3 linked regions of the Homo sapiens genome follow. The protein of the gene in region 1 purifies or fractionates together with the protein of each later gene. This does not show direct contact. Each region holds a gene or a part of one and is shown on either strand. Other genes may lie near its edges. The genes, in order: CDKL5, GPALPP1 and SERPINB8.

The links.
Region 2: the proteins of CDKL5 (region 1) and GPALPP1 purify together in Homo sapiens (affinity purification with mass spectrometry; 2 studies listed by BioGRID and IntAct, with this or other methods). This does not show direct contact.
Region 3: the proteins of CDKL5 (region 1) and SERPINB8 purify together in Homo sapiens (affinity purification with mass spectrometry; 3 studies listed by BioGRID and IntAct, with this or other methods). This does not show direct contact.

What each region holds. Positions count from the first base shown.
Region 1 is NC_000023.11:18,603,593-18,607,343, reverse strand, and holds part of CDKL5 (cyclin-dependent kinase-like 5), read right to left. Parts: intron 3,443-3,751; coding exon 2,476-3,442; intron 1-2,475. UniProt on the Homo sapiens protein: Mediates phosphorylation of MECP2. May regulate ciliogenesis.
Region 2 is NC_000013.11:45,013,424-45,017,174, forward strand, and holds part of GPALPP1 (GPALPP motifs-containing protein 1), read left to right. Parts: intron 1-1,508; coding exon of another isoform or gene 1,509-1,528; coding exon 1,529-1,660; intron 1,661-2,008; coding exon 2,009-2,173; exon of another isoform or gene 2,174-2,174; intron 2,175-3,751.
Region 3 is NC_000018.10:63,968,209-63,971,959, reverse strand, and holds the start of SERPINB8 (serpin B8), read right to left. Parts: upstream 1,880-3,751; 5' UTR 1,790-1,879; exon of another isoform or gene 1,456-1,789; intron 1-1,455. Other genes in the region: serpin-like protein HMSD, read right to left, coding at 3,309-3,622. UniProt on the Homo sapiens protein: Has an important role in epithelial desmosome-mediated cell-cell adhesion.

The sequences.
Region 1 (3,751 bases):
TCTGGAGGTTCTTTCTCCCGACAGCATCTCCTCAGGGCTCCTCTGACCATTCCTCTGACTCCACTTCCAGCCTCTGCAAATGGGCACCTCTTGCTTTCTCCTTTCACCTGGGTGCCAGACCATCTTTTTAGCCTCTTAGAGCACACTTCTGCTTAGAGGCCAAGGTCACTTCAAATTCAACATGTCCGCAAGACACCAGTGGCAAGCAGCTGGCCTCAGCACCTGGAGCTTGCCTCATAATCCCAGCTCCATCCTGAGCTGGTTGGGTAAACTTGGAGCAACTCACCCAACTTCTCTGAGCTTCGACATGCTCATCTGTGAAATGAAGGGGTTGAATTAGGTGACTTCAAAACTACTCTCTTTCACTCCAAAAAGGAGGTCCTAGAAAAGAAACCATGAAGTCTTCCTTTTTCCTATATTCAATCCTTCAAATCACAAATCCTATTGTTTCTACTTCTGAGGAGTAGAAGATCCACTCCGTTTCCCACTGGCACTGACTTAATCCCAAACATATTCTCTTCACCTCGTGCTTGAATTATTGCAAAAGCCACTCCAAATTTTGCATTTTTCACTCCAGCAAAGTGGAACAAGTTGCAATGCCCAAAGCATACCATGCTATGTAACATCTGTTACCTTCCTTCTCCTTCCAATGCTCTTTTCTTCCCTCTTTCCTGAGGTCACTGTCACTTTCTTCCCAACCTTTCTGGAAGTCTCTGCTCAGGTGCCACCTGTTCTAGGAGCTCCCACAACTCACAACTTGGACTGTCTCGCTCCCTTGCCACACTGGCATGCCTCTAGCACAGTAGCCAGAATGTAACCTCACAGTAGTGGAACAACTTATCTGTTGACAAGTGTCCCCTGCCAGCCCACACACTTAAGACGACAGGGAACCTATTCTTTTCATCTTTCTAGCTAGAGCTTTTCATGTTGCCTAGCTCAGGACGTACCTGAACATACCTTCACTCTTCAGCCAATTCAAAGCTTGTCTATACATCCTAGCCCAGAGAAAGACCTTCAGTTGCCTGTAAAGCCATTTCTAACTGCTTCTGCTCACAATGACCTCTCTCTATTCTCAGTTCCTATTTATAGCCAGTGCCATATTGACTTAGGTCTTACTTATTTCATTGTGTGTTTGTGTGTGTGTGTGTGTGTGTGTGTGTGTGTGTGTGACAGTCTTGCTCTGTCACCAGGCTGAAGTGCAGTGGCACGATCTCGGCTCACTGCAACCTCCACCTCCTGGGTTCAAGCGATTCTAGTGCCTCGGCCTCCTGAGTAGCTGGAATTACAGGCACACGCCACCACGCCCAGCCAATTTTTGTATTTTAGTAGAGACGGGGTTTCACCATGTTGGCCAGGATAGTCTCGATCTCCTGACCTCGTGATCTGCCTGCCTCGGCCTCCCAAAGTGCTGGGATTACAGGCGTGAGCCACTGCACCTGGCTACTTATTTCATTGTTATCATGTATCAGTTTATCTTCCCCAAGAGCAGGTAAGTTTCTCAAGTGCAAGAGCTCTCTCAGACTCTTTTGAGTGCCTGGGAACACCCAGCATAGAAAAGGTGTTCAATGTCCAAATATCAGCCTCCACAATCACAGAAGCAGCAAGAATAACTAAAATTTGTTAGACACTTACTTTGTGCCAGGCACTGGGCACAGTACTTTATAGATGAAATCATGATAACATTATTTTTAAAACATGCTCTACTGTAAGAATGCTACTTCTTGTTTTTTTTGTTTTTGTTTCTGTTTTTGTTTTTGAGACAGAGTCTCGTTCTATTGCCCAGGCTGGAGTGCAGTGGTGTGATCTTGGCTCACTGCAGCCTCTGCCTCCCAGGTTCAAGTGAAGGAATGCTACTTCTTTTAAGCAGGTTAGGTCAGTTCTAGAGTTTGACGATGAATAAGATGGAGGAAGCATTATGCTAAAAATGCTGTTTTAAGATTTAAAAACAATCCAAAAGACTGAAAACTAACATTTATCCTGGTATGAAGTTAAATTTATCTGTAGTTCTGGACAAATTTAAAACTTTTAAATTCAGTTAAAATATTGAGTAAGGTACTAGCAAAAGCTTTTGATTTAAGCAAATGTGGTTTGGAGAGATCAGAGAAAATACCCATGAATTCACACTGTATTTTAAGAAAAACTAAAACCTAACTGATACAGCTGATGAATTCTGTAATAAATCAAAATAGGATTCTCTCAACAAAATATTCCAGAAAAGAACATTTAAGAAAAAAAAAAAGATCACTAAAAACAAAATTTGACTTTTCTTGAGTACTCAACGGTTGATCTAAATAGATTTAAAAAACAAAAAACAAAAAAACAGAGATTAGGCCAAGTATTGCTTCCCTAAATGCATCCTATCAAGAAAAGCACAACCTCCTGTAGTAGGGAAAATAGTAGATGGACCCTCATCACATCCCTCGTACCACCTTCCCCTGAAGGGCCACCAGATTCAGTCAAGGTGCTCAACTGTACCTGGGGTGACAAGAGTTGCAGGCTGTTGGCTCTAGCTGCCATCCCTTGCCCTATGCTCAAGCTTCCATCCAAGCCCTTGGCTCTCACTTTGTCACGGGTCACATACATAGAATGCCTATGAGGACGTTGCTGGGAAGAAAAGGGGCTGGTGTAGCCCAGTCCATAAGAAAAAGATTCGTGAGGTGCAGACAGTGAATGGGAATGGCTACTGTCCATGTGCTCCGGCAGCTTCAATTCCTCCATCGTCTTAGAATGTCTGGTTGTGGTTCGACGTGAGTCCAGCGTTCCCTCATTTCGGTTATTTCTTCCAGAAGGGCTGAGCAAAGTTCTCGTGTCACTGTGTCTGGTGGGGGTTGGGCTGGTGGGAGAATTCAAGTCTAAGCAGCTAGATGGGAAGTACCTACTGGTACTGGGCTCCGCAATTTGGGCCCTGGCTTCAGAAAGGTTGCTCACAGACTTGGAGTCACTCAGTGCCCCATGGCTTTTGGCCTTGGTCCTGTAGGAGGGACTCCTAGAGGACTGGGGAATTGTGTCAATATAGCTATGCCGACTCTGCTTTTCATTGGGCTGCAGTGTCCCAGCTTTGCTTTGAGAGCTTTCCATGAATGAGTGGCGGTTCTGCTGAGATCTGCTGTTTGACTTGAGGTACTTTGTCCCTGGGCCTTCTGAAGGCTTTGGGTCAATATTAAAATCAAACTCTGTTTTTGACTTGGCTTCTTTTGGGCTAAGAAGGTGTGGTATGTTGTTGTTGGTGAGATCTTTGCTGGTAGACCCAGGCTGGCTGCTTGCTTGGTAGGTTTTGGTGTGCAGTGGACTAAGACTAGCTCCAGCAAGGTTTCCATTTAGGAAGCTTTCATTGGCAGGGAGACCTTCGTCAGCCCGGGGCAGGCCTACACTCAGGTTCTGGATGTCCTTGCTGTTAGATCTGTGGTGAGACTGCAAAGCAGTACTTTTGCCGGCTTGGTTTCTATGTTAAAAACAAAAGAAGTATATCAGTTTCCCTCAATAGCTGACACACAAAAAGTATTGTTAAAAAGAAAGAACAAATACTCAAAACACCTGGAAGACTAAAAACATTAATTCTCTCAAGCATGTGCCTTCGAATAACAAGTAACCTATCAACAGCAATTAAGTTTCTTAGACCAACTCACTCTGTAACAAAGCACTGGCCTTGATGAAATTATTCTGGCACTGCTAAATGCTCAGCTAACTTGCTGTCAAAACAGTTTCTAAATGATAATCTGGTAAAACATACTCTCATTATATTGGTACTCAT
Region 2 (3,751 bases), on another chromosome or scaffold:
AGACCTTTTGTGTTTATTTCACAAAAATTGTGTCATGTCCATGCCTAAACCAGTCAGCTGAGCAAGAAGAATAAGACCAAAGTGACTACTTTGTAATATTTTGTAAACATGTCCATACAATAGTTACTACTTTTTTTTAGTGACTGGACTAGAATTACCAATATTTTTCCCCAGGTGTTAGAGAAGGCCCCAGTTCCCTAAGAAGGGTGTGGCTTTAAAGAGGATAAAGAAAATGCAGGCTTCTCTTGGCAATAGAGTAGTTATTGGTAGAAGCTGTTATAATTTCCATGCCAAAGACAGGAAAATCAGGGCTTAGAAAGGTTAAATAACATGCCTGAAGTCACAGGGCTAGTACAATGGCAAATGAGGCCTTCAACAAAGTCAGCCCAAAGTATAAACTGGTAAGGTACCTAATTTCTATTGTAATTCTGGATAAAATGTGCACCATTTTTTTTATTAAAAGAAATAACTCATCCAGGACACCAAAATAATTTAATACCCATAGATAGGAATTGGGCATATTCTGTTTCTGATTTTCAGTTTAGTGTGTTTGGCCTAATTTTCTGTTTGCTTCTCCATCCCTGCTTTTGTTTGCCCCTGAACGTAAGTGATACTTATTTCTAAAAATTGCAGGCATCATCCTACCAGGACATGCTGAAATTCTACCTTTATTAAACCATCTCTTATTAAGATGGAAGTGAGACGATCATTAGCTTATTCCACTAATACTGTATTGGTACCATGACTCTTAGAGTTTGTGTTTTGTTTTGTTTTCATGTCTCATAGTTTTAAAATTTCATTATAGCTTTTACATCTGAACATTTTGCATCACCAAATATTTATATCTGTAGGGGGTTATAAATATGTTTAATATAATGTCTGTAACATCAGAAAGCTTACTATTGTAGATATAAGCTAGAAACACTTAATGCTAAATCACTAACAGTTGAGATAAAATAATAGACAGGCCACTGTTGTATACATGGAAAAAATATACTGGCCTTGATCTTGGAATGTTTCATTCTTGGATAATAGTTTTATTACACTCTAAGCCTAAGTTTCCTCCAAAAAAAAAGAAACCAGAAATAGTGCCATTTTACAGTTTTGTTACAAGGATCAAATGAGGTATATGACAAAATCCATAGTTATTAAGAGTATGTTTGTGTGTGTGTGTGTATTAGAGTAAGCCACAAGACAGTATATAGTTGTCTAATTATTGTACTATGCTGAAAAGAGCTCTAAGTCTACATCTGTGTCCTTCAGGAAGAGAGTGAGGTCTGTCATGGACACAGGAAGAGAGGTGGGAGGTGGGAGAGAGTCTGCATGCCATGGATTTGTCATCTCTGTGCTAGGCACTTGAGGAAGGTGAGGAAAAAGTCCTCATGGTTCAGTGATGAGCCAGCAATACATTGTTTACTTTTTTATTTTTTATGGATAATAAGTTTCAGTTAAATGCAGGTAATTTAGAATTATTTTTTATAACCTGTAGCTCTGCTCTTGGTTTAAAGGTAATGTCTTGTTTTAAAAGGAAACAGACAGCAGTGAAGATGAGGATATTATTGGACCAATGCCTGCAAAAGGACCAGTTAACTATAATGTAACGACAGAGTTTGAAAAAAGGGCCCAGAGAATGAAAGAAAAACTGACCAAAGGAGATGATGTAAGTTTTAAAAACACTTTAAGAAATACACTAAATAGATTAAAAATCTAAATTTTAGAAATAAACACTAAACTATATAACTTTTAATATATTTTGTTTTTATGCATAACATTTTTTTAAATTTAGGAGTTAGAACCCAGAAACTCTAAAAGAAAAATAACAAATTGGATGAACGTCTTTGTAACTTATATGACAAATATATGTGACAAAAACATCGATCCTTTATATTAGAGTTTGTTAAGTAACTTTAAAACTTCAATTGCATGACACAGTTGCTTGTACATATATATGTACTCATCTTATACACGATATGTACTTTCTATGCTGTGTTTTTTTTTTCTCTTAAAGGATTCATCTAAACCCATTGTAAGAGAGTCATGGATGACTGAACTTCCTCCAGAAATGAAAGACTTTGGTCTTGGGCCAAGGACTTTTAAGAGAAGAGCTGATGACACATCTGGAGATCGATCAATCTGGACAGATACTCCAGCTGATAGGGAAAGGAAAGCTAAGGTGAGAGGTTTTGTTTGTTTGTTCATGTATTTCTGTTCATGTTGGCTGGATTTTGAAAAGATATAATGCAAAATTATTTAAGGGTACTATTTTTTAAAATTATGATTCCAAAAGGATAATGCGGATTTTCCTCTGGAGGAAGAGTATGAGGAAGGAAAGTGACACCAATTGCTTGCTGTTTACTTACTATTTCCCAATAAACGGTCTCATTTAAACCTCAAGAAAACTCTGAGACATAGGTATAATGGCCTTATTTTATAGATGGAGAAACTATCCTCTATGAGGTCAACGTTTCTAGGGTCACAAAGCTAGTAAGTGATGAAAAATAATTTCATTTTAGACCTTTCTAGCTCCAGATTCCCTGGTCTTTTTACACCATACTATCTTTATGAACATATATCTTTTAAAATATTTTAGAAAAAAAAAACAAAGCTGCAGATTAACCTAGCAAATTAAATGGTGCCTAGAGAATTTCTCTCAAAATGACCATATCTCAGGTGCACTAAGCTTCATGTTACTGTCAAGATAGACAAGAACCACTGTCATTAATACAGTAAGTTATCCAAAAAATACCAGCCGGCCGCAGTGGCTCATGCCTGTAATCCCAGCACTTTCCAAGGCCAAGGCAGGGCGGATCACCTGAAGTCAGGAGTTCGAGACCAGCCTGGCCAACATGGTGAAACCCTGTCTCTACTAAAAATAAAAAAATTAGCCAGGCGCGGTGGCATGTGCCTATAATCCCAGCTACTTGGAAAGCTGAGGCAGGAGAATCACTCAAACCCGGGAGGCAGAGGTTGCAGTGAGCCAAGATTGCGCCGCTGCACTCCAGCCTGGGCAACAGAGCGAGACTCCATCTCAAAAAAAAACAAAAAAACAAAAATCTGTATGCATAAAATACATTATTTTTAATCTTCTGTTCTTGAATCTTTTTCTGTTTATTACAAAATATTTCATTGTATATTAGGAATTAAACCAGTATCCCCAGTACTACTCCTTCAATTTAATCCATCTGTGGGTTTTGGTTTTTTCTTTTTGGTTTTTTTGTTTGGTTGTTTGTTTTTTAAGAGACAAGGTCTCTCTGTCACCCAGGTTGGACTGCAGTGGTGCAATCACAGCTCACTGCAGTCTCAAAGGATCAACCCTCTTGGGCTCAGGTGATCCTCCTGCCTCAGCCTCCTGAGGAGCTGAGACTACAGGCACACAACTAATTTTTTTTATTTTTTATTTTTGTAAAGACAAGGCCTTGCTATGTTGTTCAGGCTAGTCTCAAACTCCTGGGCTCAAGCAATCCTCCCAAAGTGCTGGGATTACAGGCGTGAGCCGCTGTGCGCAGCCTCTCTCTAAAGGTTTTAATTTCTGTAAGACATCCCATTCAATTCTCAAATGCTTGACTAATTGTCACCTTATGATTATAAATTCATCAGTTCTGACTAAAGCAGTTCCACACTTAGTTCATTCCACTAGCTCTGTTTGTATTACTCATCAGTACCTAGAATTGTCAGGATTTCTGTTTTCAATCTGTAATGATCAATTTTCCTGTTTTGTCAGGAATTGTATTTGGTTTCAGGTGATAGAAAG
Region 3 (3,751 bases), on another chromosome or scaffold:
AATGGGGGATGCAAATAATAGGCTGAGGAATTAGCAGGTGCCAAGAATGTGGCAGGAAGACAAAGGGCATGGTTTGTGTGGTGCCCCTGGGGTGGGTTTCTATGGTTTCCTGTGAGCCACGTGGTAGTGAGATAGGACGGACCCTTATGCCACATTTAGGAGTTTGAACTTGAGATTATGGTCTGGAAAGCCATGCATGGTTTTTAAACAAACGTCTCATATGAGTGCATTGGGGCTTTAGAAAGATAACCCGGCTCAGTATTTGGTATGAAAAGAGGCTGGGGAGCTGGCGCGTAGGCCACCACCATGGGCCAGGGACTGCTGAAAGCAGAGGGATTGTCTGCAATAGAGAAGTGGGGGCTGGAATTGCCAGGCAGTGACTGCTCACATAGGGACAGAGCACAGGAGGGCCCAGTCCCGAGGCGCCTAGCTGTTATAAATTCATACTCAGGGTGGGTCGTGAACCACTGGAATTTTAAATGAGGAGTCAGGCTGGAATGGGGAATATGACTTGTTCCATTTGAGATGCGTGGAACACACCATACCAGGTGAACCTGTAACAAAGACAGCCAAGGATGTTTGTAAACAGTTAGGGACGGGGATGAGTAGACTGTCTAGAGCCAGAGACCTGGAGCCATCAGCATCCCGATTCCGAGAGGTTCCATGAGAATGGATGAAACTACACAGAACATCTAGTGGAGGCACAAGGGAAGAAATCCACCTATTTCTGTGGAATTTCCAATATCTGGAGGTAGTAAAAGGAAGAGACAGAGGAGGGCGAGGGGAGAGCGCGCGCGCGAAACGGAGACTGAGACCCAGCCATCAGGGTGTGCTGGGAGAACTGGGGAGACGAGTCTGCCCCTGCGAGTGGACCCAGGGAAGAGGGCGCGGTCTACGCAGAGCCCGAGGCAGGGAAGCGGGAGGGGCCCGGAGAGCAGCCCTGGGTGAGGCCCTTTGGAATGGAGAGGTCTCAGGAGTGAAGCAGCAGCCAGAGGACTGAGAGTGTCTGGAAAGTGAGGAATTGGTTAAAGTAACGCCGGTGGCTGCAACAGAGAGGGGCGTAGGTGAAGAAGCACCCCCAACCCCATCCCATTTGAGAGGAAGCAGACAATGAAGAAGAGAATATGAAAGATACAGAAAGATGAAGGCAGGGGTGGAAAGAACGGAGGGGGGGGACAGGAAGGGAAGGAGAAGGTGCAACCAATAGGCTGTAAGCACAGGGGCAAGCTTGGGCGCCAGGGGAGCAGGGACTCGGCGCCTCCCCGATCTGCCCCAGGCGCCACGGAAATTCCAGGCCCCGCCACCCGCACTCCCGGAGCCTCCTCCGCAGCGGCGGCTCCTCCCACTCGCCCTCCCGGGGCTCCCGCCCAAGCTTCCGGCGCTTCCAAACTCACTGCTCGCGTCACCCCCCGCTCCCATCCGGCAGCAAATCACAGCGCAGCAAATCGCAAGCCTAGAAACAGACGCTCCCTCTCCAGGGGCAGCTTCCTATTCAGGGCGGGTCTGGGCGCACCTGTTCTCGGGACCCGGCCCTCGGCCTTCGCCGGGTCTCGCGGTGGGGCTTGGGACCCCGGCTGGTGCCAGGGCGACCCCCACAGCCCCGCGACTCTCTTTCCCGGCCGCCTCCCGCCGTCATTCTCCTAGTTCCTGCCCGCCTTTGCCTCGCTCTGATTCCTGCTCTGGCCTTCCTCCCTTCCCCTCTCTCACGCACTCCAGGGAAGAGGTGGCCTCCGCGGGAACCTGGGCACCTCCGTGCCTGCCCCGCCCGGTACCTGGCAGAGGCCCCCACCTCCTGCTGCTGCTGCTGCTGCCGCCGCCGCCGCCGCCGCTGCTGCTTTGACTATTCCTCCTTTGTAGATGCTTCACGTCCGCCTTGATTGAGGGCAAGGCTTCCGGCAGATGACTCAGAACCGTTCGATTGCTCTGGCTTGTGCAATCCCTGATTCTTTGGGCCTGTGTGGATGTCTGTGGGCACCGGAGAGAGGGCCAGTGCCTGGTCCTTGGAGGGTGGTTTTTATAAAAAGTGTACACATTGGCTATTGTCCTTTTTTCACCGTTGATTCACGTTTGACTCCACTGTAGTTAGACGTCCACCCAAACATTCTCTGAAATTGCTCCTGATAAGGATACTAATCATTTTCTAATTGCCTTGGCCAAAAAATACATCCCAGGTCTTATTTCATTTTGTTTGTTGGCGACATTTAGCCCTTTCTTCTTTGACCTTCCCAGGATTTCCAGAGCACCCTTCCCTTCTTTCCTGACTCCTTTGCTTGGTATCCTGATTCCTTTCCTACCATTCTAAGCCCTCTTCTTTTCATTATAATATGATCTTCTTGTATGACCTCCACTATATCCATAGGTTCATGTTTCAACTTTTAACTTATTTCTTCAAAATCTCTAACCTGTCTCGAGCCGTAGATGTTACCTGTGTACTACTGGACATCTCTCAGAAACCTGGGTGTGTCCCTCCGCAGTTCTTTTAACTAAATGATCAACAGTCCTGTTACTTCTATCACTTTTGTGTTCCTCCTGTCCATACTCTGTCACCTCTATCATGTCTCATGTCTCTCCTAAACAATTAATTTTCCTACCTACAGTTCTGATCCATGCCAACCTATTGCCTACTCTGAAGTTCAGGTAAACATTCCAATTCTAATTATTTTATACCTCAGTTTAAAATCCTTTATAACATCCTCTTATCCAAAAAGATAAATTAGAAACTATTGAGCAAGGAGTGTAAGCCTCTTCACGTCTTGATTTCTCCCTTCTTTTCTTTAGAGCCATAGCAAATTATTTACATTCCTTCATATCCTCTGTTCATATACATGGGGTTCCTGGCATGCAAGCTTGTCTTTCAAAATTCAGTTCAAATAATGTCTCCTGCAGGAAGCTCTCACAGAGCTCTCCAGTTTGGGAATTCTGCTTTTAAAGATGCACATTCCCACTCTGCACCCCAAACCAATTAAGTAAAGATCTCTTGGAGGAGGGAACCCAGCAGCAGTATTTTGTAAAACTCGCTCAGTGATTTCCCTGTGGAATCCTAAAAGTAACTGTTCCCAAGAACTCTCCTCAATAAGTCTTGGTGCAGGATTCACCCCCATCTTTTCTCCATGACTTTGAAACCCCTCTCTCTAGTGGCTACAGACTCACATTTGAACTGTGCCCAAACTTACCGGCTCTGCCAGTTGAAAATGCCAAGGTCACTTCCCCATTGTGCATCAATTTCTCCTTGTTGGTCAGAACTAGATCCAGACTTTGGGCCCCACTTTGTCCATCCACTCCTTTTCCTCTTTGACCAGCAAAACAGATTAAAAGATGAAAAATGCTTGTTTTCCTCCGTGAAACTTCCAGCAAATGCCTGGTGGTTTGAAGTCCTTTACAAAGGATATAATTTGGCCCCTGGGAGTTTGGTTGTAAACACAGATATCCCATGTAGGAAACACAGTGCGTGCAGGTGCAAAGAGGCACAAGATAGCACCATGAAAACCATGACGTATCCAGGCCTGCAGTGGTACAGATAGTGTGGATGAGGCACTGCAAGACAACGTCTGATGTGTCCACAGGGCCATGTCGTGAAGGCCATGTGGACGCTGTTGGTGGTGTTTCTTCGTTCCCTTGTGGACTATGGGGAAACACAAAAGGATTTTAAGCTGGGGAGAAACATAATCATATTTGTATTTACGAAGGTCCCTCTGGCTGCAACATGGAGTATATTGTAGGAGGGTACCATTGCCTGCAGTGAGGCGTTAAG